4 linked regions of the Homo sapiens genome follow. The protein of the gene in region 2 purifies or fractionates together with the protein of the main gene of each other region. This does not show direct contact. Each region holds a gene or a part of one and is shown on either strand. Other genes may lie near its edges.

Region 1 (4,135 bases), on a different chromosome or scaffold from region 2:
TGCCTTAAAGCTTATATTCTAAAGGTGGAGGCAGACAATAAACAAGTAAACAAATAGTTCACAGAATTAATTGCTTTTAATGACTATGAAGGAAATAAAATGGGAGCCAGAAGTAGGCAAAGGATGTGTACATAAAACAGTTCAATTGAATGGGTTTCCCATAATTTACTTAACCATTTTTATTTAGTGTTGGATTTTTATATTGCTTTTAGTTTTTCACTGTTATACTAATACAGAGGAATTATTTATGTTTATTTTCATGGAATAATTTCCTACAAATGTAATTACTGAATAGAAACAATCAGGATTTTTTTTTTTTTTTTTTGGGACGGAGTCTTGCTTTGTGGTCTATGCTGGAGTGCAGCGGTGCAATTTCTCACCGCAACCTCAGCCTCCGGGGTTCAAGCGATTCTCCTGACTCACACTCTCGAGTAGCTGGGATTACAAGCCATCATGTCCAGCTCATTTTTGTATTTTTAGCAGAGACGGGGTCTCATCTCACCATTTTGGCCAGTCTGGCCTCACACTCCTGGTCTCAAATGATCCGCCCGCCTTGGCCTCCCAAAGTGTTGGGATTACAGGCTTGAGCCACCGCGACCGGCCTCTAAGTTGCTTTCAAGAGGTAACCACGGTGAGTAAGCTGAATGTGCTCTGAGGGGTAGAAGCAGAAAAAGTTACCTGTGGAAAAGGCATGTTTCCGCTTAGCTTAGGGATAAGCTAAATGTAGAGCTGACTTGGGTTTAGTAGTAAGGGGCAGCAGCTAATGCAAAACCGTTAGCTTTGGGAACAGGACAACCTGGATTCTAAGCCCATTTTTGCCATCCTGTGATCTTCACAGGTTGTACGTAGCCCTCTCTGAGCCTTAGTTTCCTGAAATTCAGGTAGGTTTTGCTCAACCTTTGTATTTCCCACCATCTTTTAGATCAAGCACTCTCTGGCGCCTCCAAATTGAAGACAGCAGCTGCGGAATTGATGTAATGGGCTGAATCAGCCTCAGCCGCGAAATGCCGACTAATCACAGGCACCTCCGGCGGCCTGGACAAAAGGTTTGAAGTCCCTGGGACCGCACTTCCGGGTAATTAAGGCTACGCTTTAGACGCCAGGGCCAGCGAGTCGCAGCCGGGTGACTCGAGTGCCGCGACTGCGCATGCTCTCGCCCCAGCGCCCGGCGGCCACCTCTTTCCCGCGGGCGGGCCGGGGCGGGGCACTGAAGGGGGCGGTCCAGGACCCTGACTTGTCTCGCGGTTACTGGGCCGGCGCGAGCACGCGAGGCTCGGGGGCGGCACGGGGCGGGGTTTAGCCTGTGGTGGGCGCTGCGGGTGTTTGCAGGAGGTTGCAGTACTCGCTGGGCTGAGGTCGTCTCGGGTGAGGAGGTCGCGCCGGAAGTGGCTCTAGCCGTGGCGCTTCGGCGTAGTAAGGAGCCTGCAACAGAGTTTTGTTGTTTAGGGGGCGCGGCACCGCACCGCTCCCTTCACCTTGCAGCAGCCATGGCGAAAGGCAGAGTCGCCGAACGATCGCAGTTGGGCGCTCACCACACGACCCCCGTGGGGGACGGGGCAGCGGGGACGCGGGGTCTCGCGGCGCCTGGCAGCAGAGACCACCAGAAGGGTGAGTGGGCCCGGGGAGCAGAGCTGGGGGTGGCCCGAGGCTTCTGTGTGTCGGGTGGGGAAAAGGACCCCCGCTATTCTCGGAGAGTCGCGGGGAAAGAGGGGGGCCTGCTGGCGCCGCGGCGGGAGCAGAGACCGTGGGGGAGTTGGGCTTGGGCGCTCGCGCAGCACAAGGCCGGACGCCGAGTAGGTGCGTTGTAAATGCTGTTTGAGTAGAATTCATTTAAAAGAAGGGATGACACTGGCTTGTTGACGCTCAGGTAGATTGTAAGGTTGATGATAACGACGCTAGGCAGAGCTGGAAGGAGCTGTACTGTGGCATTCGCTGCGTTGTTTTTACAGATGAAGAAACTGAGGCCCAGTGTGGGTATATGACTTATAAAGTCATAAAGCCAGATCAGTGAAGTAGTAGTTAGGAGCGAGGACTTAATACTTCCAGGTGGCAGTACACCTGGGCTTGAGTCCCTGCCCTACTGTTTACTTGGAACCTTGGACTTGGTAACTTTCAAAAAAAGCTCAGTGTCTGAACTGTGAAATGGGGATAATAATAATATCTACTTAATAGGTGGTGCGTGGGTTAAACGAAATAATTCACGTAAAAGATTTAGAGCAATGCTTGGATATGAAGTGGGGGCTAAATAAATATTAGCAATTACTTAGTTACAGCTAAGGTCACTCATTCTAAAGTTTATTTCCCCACTACATCATCCTGACATTTCTCACGGCTTTATTTTTGGTTTTTGTTTTCTCTTTATTCCTACTGCCTCTATAATTGCAGAATCTCACGGCTTTAAATATTGTTTTAAGGAAAAAACTGTACGTAGAAACTAAATACTTTGATTCCGTGTTGGCCTGGAATCGTTCTTTAAATGATTTTAAAGCTCATAAACTTAAAGTGATCCTAACAAGTTTGTCTGTAGCTCACATAGGTGTGTTCCACCACCAGTGATGGCTAGGAGAACTTCTAAGAGTATGTAGTAGAAAATGTTAATGTATTTTCAAATAATTTAAAATGTCTCCAACAGTCTAATTTGGCTCTGTCAGCCTTATGTTTTTGGGTATTTTTCCAGCTTATATACACTGGATCCAGGTGACTTCATATAATTTCAAAAACTGAGAAATGAATCGTTGTTAATGTATAAATCAGCTCTGAATAAAAGAAAGATTGTTTTGAAGACTCTACTACTGAGGGTGACAATATTCCAAGGTCTGGGTTTCCTGAAAAAGTGTTCCAGATAGGGCATCCCTAAAAATTGACATCTCATTTGAGGTAGCAGCCAGTTGTATTCATGATTTTTACCTAAAGCTATTCAAAAAATAAAACCTTGAAACTTCCAAAGTGCTCTTACTTTTTAATCTTATTTTATCATTACAACAAAACATTCAACACAATTATTCTTTTTTTTTTTTTTTTTTTTGAGACGGAGTCTCGGTCTGTCACCCAGGCTGGAGTGCAGTGGCGCAATCTTGGCTCACTGCAAGCTCCGCCTCCTGGGTTCACGCCATTCTCCTGCCTCAGCCTCCCGAGTAGCTGGGACTACAGGCGCCCACCACCACGCCGGGCTAATTTTTGTATTTTTAGTAGAGATGGGGTTTCACCTTGTTAGCCAGGATGGTCTCGATCTCCTGACCTGTTGATCCGCCCGCCTCGGCCTCCCAAAGTGCTGGGATTACAGGCGTGAGCCACCACGCCTGGCCTACAATTATTCTTATGATGCTGTCCCATGACATCTATAGATCACAAATCTATAGGAAGACAGGGAAGAGATGTGAAGGCGTGCCTTCACTTCATGATGAAGTAAGGCCTGTTTTTAGTGACTTGAGACAAGGCCTCGCTGTGTCACCTATGCTGGAGTGCAGTGGCATGATCATAGCTTGCTGCAGCCTCAGCTACCTGGGCTCATGCGATCTTCCCACCTCAGCCCCCTCAAATAGCTGACTACAGGTGTGTGCCACCATGCTCAGCTAATTATTTGTTTTTTGTAGAGAAGGGGCCAGGGTGTCTTGAAGTCCTGGGCTCAAGCGTCTTCCTGCCTTGGCCTCCCCAAATGCTGGAATTACAGGCATGAGCCATTGTGCTTTGCCAGATAAGTAAGGTTTGGATAAGTAAAGAGAAGGGAAGGGTATTCCAGGCTAGGAGAAAGAGAGTAGTAGGGTTGAAGGTTAGTGTGAAACTTTTATGTGTGTGGGTAGGGAGATTAATTTGTCAGGAGCAGAGGGTTTCTGTTGGGTGGTAGTAGGCGATGAGGTTGGCCTGTTCAGGATGTGTCAGAATGTTCCTGTAAATTCCATGATACTTGGAAATGAATTTGTATTCTATTAAGTGACACATATATAACTTTGACAAATAAGTAGTTATCATCATATGTATGTTTGAACTGTTTTACATGCTATCTGCAATGTTTGGTACATTTAGTGGATTCCTTGCCATTACTCTGGCCTCTAGTCTCAGAGCTAAGCCTAGTAGACTGTGGACCACTTTGACTACTTGAGTAAGGCAGAGGTAACACGGAAAGTCTAATTTTTGC
Region 2 (3,500 bases):
GCTCCGGAAGCCTGGCTTCTGTGCATGTCTATGTCAGCCCAGGCCCTGCTACACTCTCCTCCCTGTCCCCGGCACCAACAGAAGCTTCTGCACTGGCCTTTTAGCTTCTCTTCTCTCCTCACCCTACCCCTGATTTATCCAACAGATTAGTCAGATACTCTACCTAAAATAGCATGTTTGGCCAGGTGCAGTGGTTCACTCCTATAATCCCAGCACTTTAGGAGGCCAAGGCCGGTGGATCATTTGAGGCTAGGAGTTCCAGACCAGCCTGGCCAACGCAGTGAAACCCGTCTCTCCAAAGAAATACAAAAAAAATTAGCCAAGTGTGGTGGCAGGCACCTGTAGTCCCAGCTACTCGGGAGGCTGAGACATGAGAATCGCTTGAACTGGGGAGGCGGAGGTTGCAGTAAGTGGAAATCACGCCACTGCACTACAGCCTGGGCAACAGAGACTTTGTCTGAGAAAAAAAAAAGAAAAAAAAAGAAAAGAAAAAGAAAAGAAAAAAAGGAAAAAAATTAGCATGTTTATCAAGGCACTTGAGTGCTCTATGGATATTATTTTCCACCTTGCTGGGACCAGGTAGCCGCCCCCCACCCTCGGTCATGACTGGGCCCCATGATGTGCGGCTTACTCTCCCACTATGCCCTGAAATGCTCTCTGCTCCACTTGGGCTGGTGATCTCACCTTCTCCACCTGCAAGGGGTGATTCCCACCTTAGCACCTCTGCAGTGTTCCCCTCTTGGTCTGGAATGGCCTCTTCTCTGCCTGTTCAACTCCTCTACCTTGGTGGTGCAGAAGGAGCCTGGCTTCCTCCATGTGGCTACCCTGAGGACTCTTGCTTTTGGTGCCAGTGCCTGTGGCATGAGGCTTCAGCAGCACACAGCCAGAACTAGGGCCTACACTGTCCTGCCCTGAGGCTTGGGAACTTCCTACAGGGCATGCTGGACCCCATCTTCTCACAGCTACTGCTATTTTTCCCCACACTTGGGGCAACCCAGCACAGGGCTGAGAGCAAGTCTGTTGCTGTCATGGGATTCTGTTTTGTTTTGGCTCTTTTGAGTGTGGAGAAAACATTCTGAAATAATTTATAATCTATGCTTCCTGTCTCTGGGAGACAAAATAGGGATTCATGGGTTGTTGCTGCCCTCTAGTGAAGGCCAGACAGAAATCATCCTGCCAGTGGGCACATGGGGCACAAGGTCACACTCACCACCAGAGTGCCACGCATAGCACCCCCGGCATCGTCAGCGCCACCAGCAGCATCCGCCAGTCTCGGATGAAGTAAGCAAACAGTGGCAGCACCATGTAGCCAAATGCATAAAATATGCACACTCCTAACGTAGAGAATATTATACGAACTGACTTGCCAAGAATTTCTGTCCCTGTTCAAAACAAGGGAGGTCGAGTTAGCAGTTTAATTTGGGTTCCTTCCTTATTAATTTTTTATGGTATCTTTGTGAATACACAGACAAGAAAACAGCGAGAACTCTCTCTAAGTTCATGGCGCTAGGGAGCGGATGGCGTTCTGAACCCCTCCTGTCTGACTGTCTCCTGGGGGTACATCCCTGTGGCCTCTCAGGCCCCCAAGCAACAGTTCTCTCTTGAAAATTTCGCCATGTTCTGAAGCCATGTGCTAAAGATGCCATGGTAGGCCCCCTTTAATCCTCACATGAGGAAGAATTTATTAAAAGTGAAGTCATTACTAAGTCAGCACATGCTGACTTAAGCCTCAAGGAAAGAATATTAAATATAAAAAGAAAAAACAACCCTTTCAACAATACAACCCAAGGAACTCAAAGGCCTTATCAGCTAGAGTCAGGTTCCTCCAAACACAGGCCGGCCTGGCAGCTTCTCAGTGACAACAGGCTGGCACATTTGAGACAAAGCCCTGCAGTGTGCACTCTGAATTAAAACCCTGAAGGTGACGAAAGCCCCTTCCTATCAATTTATTCTTGTCCGTAGATATCACCAGCCACAGTGCTCTGCAGACAAGGGGTTCTCTACCTTAGCAAGCTTGCCAGTCACAGCCCCTCCTCCTCCAACCATGCCGCCCTCTTTCTGGGGCTGGCTCAGCCCTGTGCAGTGGCAGGCCCTTTTTGTAAATGGAGGATCTCTGGTGAGTCCTAGTAAATTGACCATCAAGTACTAAGACCAAGGAGCCACAGCCCAGAGGCCAGAAAAGAACTGGAAATCAGAAGTCAGGCCATTGTGCTGCTGGGGACCCCAGGCTGGTCTCATGTCTGGCTCAGTTTCCCTGCCTGTAAGTAAGGTTCACCAGGAAGCTCTGGCTAGTTTTGTTAGAAACCCTGTCCCCCTTGAGGGACATCACAGTTGTCTCCAGAAAGGTAGGTGATGGGATGATGGTGAAATACAGGATCAAGTACTCAACTCCAACCTGATGGCCATACCCAGGACAAATGCTGCCACATAGTTGGAGATCTGGCCCATGCCTACAAGGACAAACAGCACGACAAACATCTCAAAATTCTTCGAGAAGATCTGCAGGAAGCTGAAGCCTGTCTGCATGCCCATGGTCACGAACAGCACATTCTTCCGGCCAAACCTGGGAAGAAAAGGAGAGTGACAGATAACCAGCTGGAAAAGGGCAGCAGGAATGGGCTCCACCAAGTGGGGCTTTCTCAAGATCCATCCAGTAAGTGGGTGTGAACAGTGTTGCCAGAATACTGGCTGCCAGGGACAGTCTCGGTCTCACAGTGCCCATGCTATTTCTCCCCCTCCCCACTCCCCATGACAAATGTACAGCCTGGGTACCAGGGTTGCCTAAAAAGCAATGCTACAATTATGATAATGATTGCAAGAGACTGAAATACATCAATTATTTAATCCATACATTCATAATGATATTTTTTTTAAAAAAGAATCTGCCAAATTTGGAGAATAACAGAGAAACAATTCATTATAAATGAAAACTGGCAAATAAAGAGAAAGAAACATTTGTCCTGATTTTCCTTTGTAAACTATGTGAACAGCAACCAATAATAGATAAGAGGTAGTATCATGTACAAAAGTATTCTAACTTTTAAATGAAAAGGTAATAAAATTAGAATAATACCATTTATAGCCCCCAATGGATTAATAGATCTATGCATTATATACTAATTACTGTTAACATCATAAAGAGACAGTCAGGAATTGCATGCTTCCTATGGTCTGGCCAAAAGGACTGAACCTGAATCAGAACCTGAATCTCAAGTCTCTGGATCCAACTGCCAATTTTGAGGAAATGCAGAGCATAGAGGAATGTGCTGAACTGCATCATCAGTGTGCAATCAACAAATCCAGACTGGGAAATTCTATAGGTGGAATAGCTCAGGTTCTTCATAGATAATCAGTAAGGCATAGAAGGCGATAGAAGGAGAATCCATAGATTAAGTAGACTAAAAGACATCAAATATATTAAGTGGGCAACACTAAATTTGTGTCAAGGATGCATATTTCGATAATAAAACTAAAAAAACTCACAAGGAAGTGATTATTAC
Region 3 (3,500 bases), on a different chromosome or scaffold from region 2:
TGGTTCTAGGGACCCCTGCGGATGCCAAAATCTACAGATATTCAAGTCCCTTTTATAAAATGGTTTAGTATTTGCATGTAATCCATGCACATCCTCCCATATACTTGAAATCATCGCTAGATTACTTGTAATCCCTAATACAATAAAACTGCTATACAAATAATTGTTATACTGTATTATTTTAAAATGTCTTATTCTTTATTATAGTATTTTGTTTTTCTACCATATATTTTCAATTCGCAGTTGGCTGAATCCACTAGTGTGGAACCCACAGATATGGAAGGATGACTGTATGTTTATATTTATTTTTGAGATAGGGTCTTGCTCTGTCATGCTGGCTGGGGTGCAGTGGCTCAAACATGGCTCACTGCAGCTTTGACCTTCCCGGGCTCAAGTGATCTTCCCACCTCAGGCTCCCAAGTAGCTCGGACTACAGGCATGTGCCACCATGCCGGGTTAATTTTTGGTTTTGTTTTACGTAGAGACGGGGTTTCACCATGTTGACCAGGCTGGTCTCAAACTCCTGAGGCTAAAGCAGTCTGCCTGCCTCTGCCTTCCAAAATACTGGGATTACATGTGTGAGGCACTGTGCCTGACCTGTAAATTTAAAAAGCTACTTTTTGGGCTGGGCGTGGTCGCTTACGCCTATAATTCCAGCACTTTGGGAGGCCGAAGTGGGTGGATCACCTAATGTCAGGAGTTTGAGACTAGCCTGGCCAAAATGGAGAAACCCCACCTCTAGTAAAAACACACAAAAAATTAGCTGGGCGCGGTGGTGGGTGTCTGTAGTCCCAGCTACTCGGGAGGCTGAGGCAGGAGAACTGCTTGAATCCGGGAGGCGGAGGCTGCAGTGAGCCGAGAACATGCCATTGCATTCTAGCCTAGGAGACAGAAAAACTCCGTCTCAAAAAATAAAATAAAATAAAATAAAATAATAAAATAAAAAGCTACTCTGTGTGTAATAAGGACAGAGGGTGATTATACATGCAAATTTGCTTATATTTGCAAAAATATGGAACAGGTGAACTAGGAGCCTAAGAAATGTTATCCATGGTCAGGGAGGGGACAGGGAGAGTACAGGAATCATGACCAGACTTCTTCTTTTTTTTTATTTTTATGAGACAGTCTCACTTTGTCACCCAGGTTGGAGTGCAGTGTCGTGATCTCAGCTCACTGCAACCTCCACCTACCTAGTAGCTAGGATTATAGGCGTACGCCACCACACCAGATAATTTTTATATTTTTTCTAGAGATGGGGTTTCCCCACGTTGGCCAGGCTGGTTTCGAACTCCTGGCCTCAAGGGATCCACCTACCTCGGTCTCCTAAAGTGCTGGGATTCCAGGTGTGAGCCACCACACCCAGCCTGCAAAGAAATACTAACCTTTTCTCAGCACTCCAGTTGCAATTGTGCTGTGAGAATGCTCATTCTGAAGCAATTATATGAGTGAGTGTACAGTAGAATAACATCAGTGAATAACGGGTAGAATAAGCAACTAAGAAACGAGGAGCGGAACCAAGCATACCAGCGACGAGATCTAAATATGAAATTCAAAACAGCAAAGATCTGGACTGTTCAACTGAAAGTGACGCTAATTGCTAGGAACTCTTTGCTGCTGCCCCAAGTGTGTACTTCCTAATTTTTCACAGTAAAGGCCTAACAACAATGACCACCCAGCAGCAAAAAGCACCCATGGCACCTGGATTGTGTCTCTAAATACCGCTCCCCACTAACGGCACCTGGAGTCCTGAAGGAGGGGCTGACTGCAGCTCTGGGATGGGAAGTACACAAGGTGAAGGCGGGCATCCCGCTGGGAGAAACGCTGACCCACAGTGCTAGAAGGGCAAGGAGCCAATCAGAAGGGCTCCAATGGCTAAGACAGGACAATTTTTTTTTCTTCTTTTTTTTTAAGATGGAGTCTCGCTCTGTCGCCCAGGCTGGAGTGCAGTGGTACGATCTCAGCTCACCGCAACCTCCGCCTTCCAGGTTCAAGCAATTCTCCTGCCTCAGCCTCCTGAGTAGCTGGGATTACAGGCGTGCACCACCATGCCTGGCAAATTTTTGTATTTTCTGTAGAGATGGGGTTTCACCACGTTGGCCAGGCTGGTCTTGAACTCCTGACCTCAAGTGATCTGCCCACCTCGGCCTCCCAAAGTGCTGGGATTACAGGCTGGAGCCACTGCGCCTGGCCAAGACAGGACAATTTGACTAGGAAAACGAATAATTCATGCAACTGACAAACACATAAAAGTTCACAATGATGCTGGAGAAAAAAAGAGAACCCCTTCCCTACCCCCAAACAAACCCTCAACTCTGGTCAACATTTGGAGTAAGCTCCAACTCTCTATCCTGAAAATTAGTCATCAAAAGGAACAGTTAAGCATTAAACTGCCTTTCTCGTACCATACTTCAAGGTAACAAACTAGTCCTGGAAGATGGAAAGTTCTTCACAGAAGAATTACAGCTCATCAATGTGAAACGAAAGTTAGAAAAGTGAGCCATGGTTTACTGATTGGGAAAATAGAGGTAATATCCACTACTTCAGCAGGTGGAGCCAAGGATTAAAGATAAGAAATGTCACAAATCCAGCTAGACCACATTAAGACCTCAATAAATATTTACTTTTCCTTTCTAACTCGAGTCTGGAAGAATCGCACTGGCCTCCTCCTCACCGCAGGCACTTGCATTCATTTATAACACATTCTCTGAAGGCAGACCCTGCAGGTGGCAAAAAGATTCGACGTGGAGTAAATGGAAACAGAGACCAGGGAGGAACTGAGCTGCACAGTTTTCTTTCTTTCTTTTTTTTTTTTGAGACGGAGCTTCACACTTGTTGCCCAGGCTGGAGTGCAGTGGTGCGATCTCGGCTCACTGCAAACTCTGCCTCCTGGGTTCAAGCGATTCTCCCACCTCAGCCTCCCAAGTGGCTGGGATTACAGGCGTGCACCACCACGCCTGGCTAATTTTGTATTTTTAGTAGAGACAGGATTTCACCATATTGGTCAGGCTGGTCTCGAACTCCTGACCTCAAATGATTCACACACCTTGGCCTCCCAAAGTGCTGGGATTATAGGCGTAAGCCACCACACCCAGGCAGCGCATGTTTTTTTCTTTTTTTTTTGACACGGAGTCTCCCTCTGTCACCCAGGCTGGAGTGCAGTGGCACCATCTCGGCTCACTGCAACCGCCACATCCTGGGTTCAAGCAATTCTTCTGCCTCAGCCTCCCAAGTAGCTGGGACTACAGGTGCGAGCCACCATGCCTGGCTAATTTTTGTATTTTTGGGAGAAACAGGGTGTCACCATATTGGCCAGGCTGGTCTCAAACTCCTGACCTCGTGATCCGCCCGCCTTGGCCTCCCAGAGTGCTGGGATTACAGGCGTGAGCCACTGCGCCCGGCTTTTTTTTTTTTTTTTTTTTTTTTTGGCCAGTGCATAGTTTTCAAAGTTCCAGGGCTGGCAAGGCACAGTGGCTCACATCTGTAATCCCAGCACTTTGGGA
Region 4 (3,500 bases), on a different chromosome or scaffold from region 2:
CAAAACAAACAAAAAACTACATTTTTTGGGCTGTGTATATAAAAATGATGTGCATCTTTCTGCACACAAACACTATTTTTGTTTGGTGAAAGTCCTGGATAAATAGTTAAACAGGACAAAAAATAAAGAAAGAAAGAGAGAAAGGAAGGAAAGAAGGAAGAAAGGGAAGGAGGGAGGAAGAAAGAAGAAAAGAAAGAAAACAAGGAGATCACTAATTCCAAATGACATTCTATGTGGTATTACCTAAGTAAGCTACCAACCAAAAAAGCAGAAAGAATAACTAAATAATTCACTTAGGAATGAGCATGTTTCATTGTCTTGTAATGGGTTCATCATCATTAGGCAGTGAATCAGGGGGTATAATTACCTGGATATGCATTTTTATTATTGCTTTTCCAATTAGGGTTGCACCAAAGAAGGTCCAAAAAGGTACCAGAAAGTGTCCACACGTTATTCCAGCCAGATCAAATAAAGGATTTGGAATCTATAGAGAGAAAAAGAAGGACTTCCATATTATAATCCAAAGAACAATTTAATTTTATCACCCATTGATATGTGGTATTCTGCTTTCAGCCTGCTTACACTGCAAAGCAATATATGGGTTCCTTGATCACTACTGGATTGTTCAAAAGGAGGTTAGGCAAACATCCTAATGTGTCTAGAAGCTGGGTCTCATATTCACCTTAGGTGTTCAATCTGCTCACAGCAAACCAAGGTGTCCTTTTGCTTATATTACTCATGGCTAAGGCACTGTGTGTGTGTTTGTGTGTGTGCCCATCACATGAGAACTGGATAAAGTAAGTGGACCTGCAGGAATTTAATCCCGTTCAGTTGATTCCTGGATATTTGGTGGCTGTTTTCTAAGGTGAGGTATGAGTGAAGAAAGAGCCTTAAGATTGTTTCAGCAGTTAGGGTTCTAAAATCTTTAGCTTGAAATGTGAATATTATCTGGAAAGCACTCATATCATTAGCAAATATTTTAATAAATTCTCAAATACATTTATGGGTGGATGTGCTGTTATTCTCAACATAAAATATTAATAATTTGTATTTTATTTTACGAGAGACCAAGTCTGAGGGCTATGTGACACAATTTATAAAGAAGATCAAGTGTGGAAATATGAGATCACACAGATTCAGATGTTTTGAATACTCAGTCCCAGACAAAGAAGTAATTCACAACAAATACCTTTCCCAAACATTCCCACATTTTAAGAATGCTAAAAGACATTTCATGTAAAAATGCAAAGAAGCCACAAGCTGTTTTTGAGCACTTCATCCCTTCTTCTCCTATGAAAGTACTCTGACCTTGTGGCTGTTGGCTGAACCATTAATAAGCCAATTAATTTATATAATTTCATTTTTGAACTTTGAAAGAAAAGCCTAGTTATTTAAAAAATACTTGTCACATATGATCTTTAAAAAAGACATGACTAAATTAGAATTCAAGTATTCCTTTGTTAGTAACACTTGGATTCAATGACTCATTTTTGTTTTTCTCATCCAAATTCAAATGCTTTAGGATTATTTCATCTCTTACAACCATATAATAATATCATTTACACAGCATCACACCTGCTATTTGTTATATTTGCTCATGTGACTCTCATAATTCTATGAGTTATAACTTTTTTTTCCTTTATCATAAGGTTCCAACTCATGTTGAAATGAAAATGAATTTAAAGTATTTAAGATATGTAGGCTGGGCGCAGTGTCTTATGCCTATAATCCCAGCACTTTGGGAGGCCGAGGTGGGTAGATCACTTGAGGTCAGGAGTTCGAGACCAGCCTGGCCAACATGGTGAAACCTTGTCTCTACTAAAAATACAAAAATTAGCTGGGTGTAGTGGTGCATGATTGTAATCCCAGCTACTGGGTAGCCTGAGGCAGGAGAATCGCTTGAACCTGGGAGGTGGAGGTTGCCGTGAGCCAAGATCTCGCCACTGCACTCCAGCCTGGGTGACAGAGGGAGACTCTGTCTCAAAAAAAGAAAAACAAACACAAAAAAAGGATTTAAGATACGTAAATCAGAGTAGCCCTGAGCTAACATCGCTTTAAACAGGTTTTATATAAATTCTTCCTTGTAACTAATACTTGAAACTTTGGAAAAAGACTTCTTATCTATAAATTTGAGGAAAGAATGAAGTCATCCTTATTTGGTTAAATGTAGTTTAATTTGGTTAAATGTAGTATATTCTTCATTGGAAGAATGGATTTTGTCTCTTTTATTCTTACTGATTTAAGCCATTTAGGTCTGAAGTCATCACTACATGATGAAATACTTAAAAGCCAATAAACAAGATGTGAACCTATTCAACAGAAAACAGCTCATTTAATAAGTTGAATTGGGCTGGGTGCAGTAGCTCACACCTGTAATCCCAGTACTTTGGGAGGCCGAGGCGGGCGGATCACGAGGTCAGGAGATCGAGACCATCCCGGCTAAAACGGTGAAACCCCGTCTCTACTAAAAATACAAAAAATTAGCCGGGCGTAGTGGCGGGCGCCTGTAGTCCCAGCTACTTGGGAGGCTGAGGCAGGAGAATGGCGTGAACCCGGGAGGCGGAGCTTGCAGTGAGCCGAGATCCCGCCACTGCACTACCGCCTGGGCGACAGAGCGAGACTCCGTCTCAAAAAAAAAAAAAAAAAAAAAAAAAAAAAAAAAAAAAAAATTAGCTGGGTGTGGTGGCAGTCGCCTGAAATCCCAGCTACTTTGGGAGGCTGAGGCAGGAGAATCGTTTGAACCCGGGAGGTGGAGGTTGCAGTGAGCCGAGATTGTGCCATTGCACTCCAGCCTGGGCCACAAAAGTGAAACTCTTGTCTCAAAAAAAAAAAAAAAAAAAAAAAAAAAAGTTGAATGGGCCAGGTGTAGTGGCTCATGCCTGTAATCCCAGCACTTTGGGAGGCCGAGGCAGGTGGATCACTTGGGCCCAGGAGTTTGAGACTAGCCTGGGCAACATGAGATCCTGCCTCTACTAAAAATATAAAAATTAGCCAGGCGTGGGGGTGCATGCCTGTAGTCCCAGCTACTAGGGAGGCTGAGACAGGAGAATTGCTTGAGCCCAGGAGATGGAGGTTGCAGTGAGCCGAGATCATGCCACTGCACTCCAGCCTGGGTGACAAGAGGGAGACTCCGTCTTAAAAAAAAAAAAAGGTGAATGATTCACAAAATTACATACCCAATAAAAGTGATAGCACTTTTGTTAATTCAGGAGTATATATGGATCAAAATATAACACTACCACTTAGTAAAAGTTCTGTTTTAATACAATTCACTTACTGAAGCACAGGCCAAAATTCCAAAAAATCCAACTTTCTGTACTAGTTTTTGAACTGCCAGTTTGGCCCGGGAGGCAAAGTCCTGTAAAAAGGCAAATTTAGAAACATTAATGAGAAGTAGGAAAAGAAGGAAAGATGGTTCTTTCTAGAGTTTATTAAAGATCTCCCAATCTGATGACACTGATTAATAAGATGAATGATGAAAAAAATTACAGTAGGTTGTT

Evidence for each region.
Region 1: the proteins of SLC22A5 (region 2) and TMEM41B purify together in Homo sapiens (affinity purification with mass spectrometry; one large-scale study listed by BioGRID and IntAct). This does not show direct contact.
Region 3: the proteins of SLC22A5 (region 2) and SLC35E1 purify together in Homo sapiens (affinity purification with mass spectrometry; one large-scale study listed by BioGRID and IntAct). This does not show direct contact.
Region 4: the proteins of SLC22A5 (region 2) and VMP1 purify together in Homo sapiens (affinity purification with mass spectrometry; one large-scale study listed by BioGRID and IntAct). This does not show direct contact.

Annotation. Positions count from the first base shown.
Region 1 is NC_000011.10:9,311,794-9,315,928, reverse strand, and holds the start of TMEM41B (transmembrane protein 41B), read left to right. Parts: upstream 1-1,335; 5' UTR 1,336-1,487; coding exon 1,488-1,608; intron 1,609-4,135. UniProt on the Homo sapiens protein: Phospholipid scramblase involved in lipid homeostasis and membrane dynamics processes. Has phospholipid scramblase activity toward cholesterol and phosphatidylserine, as well as phosphatidylethanolamine and phosphatidylcholine.
Region 2 is NC_000005.10:132,383,210-132,386,709, reverse strand, and holds part of SLC22A5 (organic cation/carnitine transporter 2), read right to left. Parts: exon of another isoform or gene 2,564-3,500; coding exon 2,409-2,563; coding exon of another isoform or gene 2,390-2,408; intron 1,383-2,389; coding exon 1,211-1,382; intron 1-1,210. UniProt on the Homo sapiens protein: Sodium-ion dependent, high affinity carnitine transporter. Involved in the active cellular uptake of carnitine. Transports one sodium ion with one molecule of carnitine.
Region 3 is NC_000019.10:16,562,416-16,565,915, forward strand, and holds part of SLC35E1 (solute carrier family 35 member E1), read right to left. Parts: intron 1-3,500. UniProt on the Homo sapiens protein: Putative transporter.
Region 4 is NC_000017.11:59,808,654-59,812,153, reverse strand, and holds part of VMP1 (vacuole membrane protein 1), read right to left. Parts: intron 3,359-3,500; coding exon 3,278-3,358; intron 485-3,277; coding exon 368-484; intron 1-367. UniProt on the Homo sapiens protein: Phospholipid scramblase involved in lipid homeostasis and membrane dynamics processes. Has phospholipid scramblase activity toward cholesterol and phosphatidylserine, as well as phosphatidylethanolamine and phosphatidylcholine.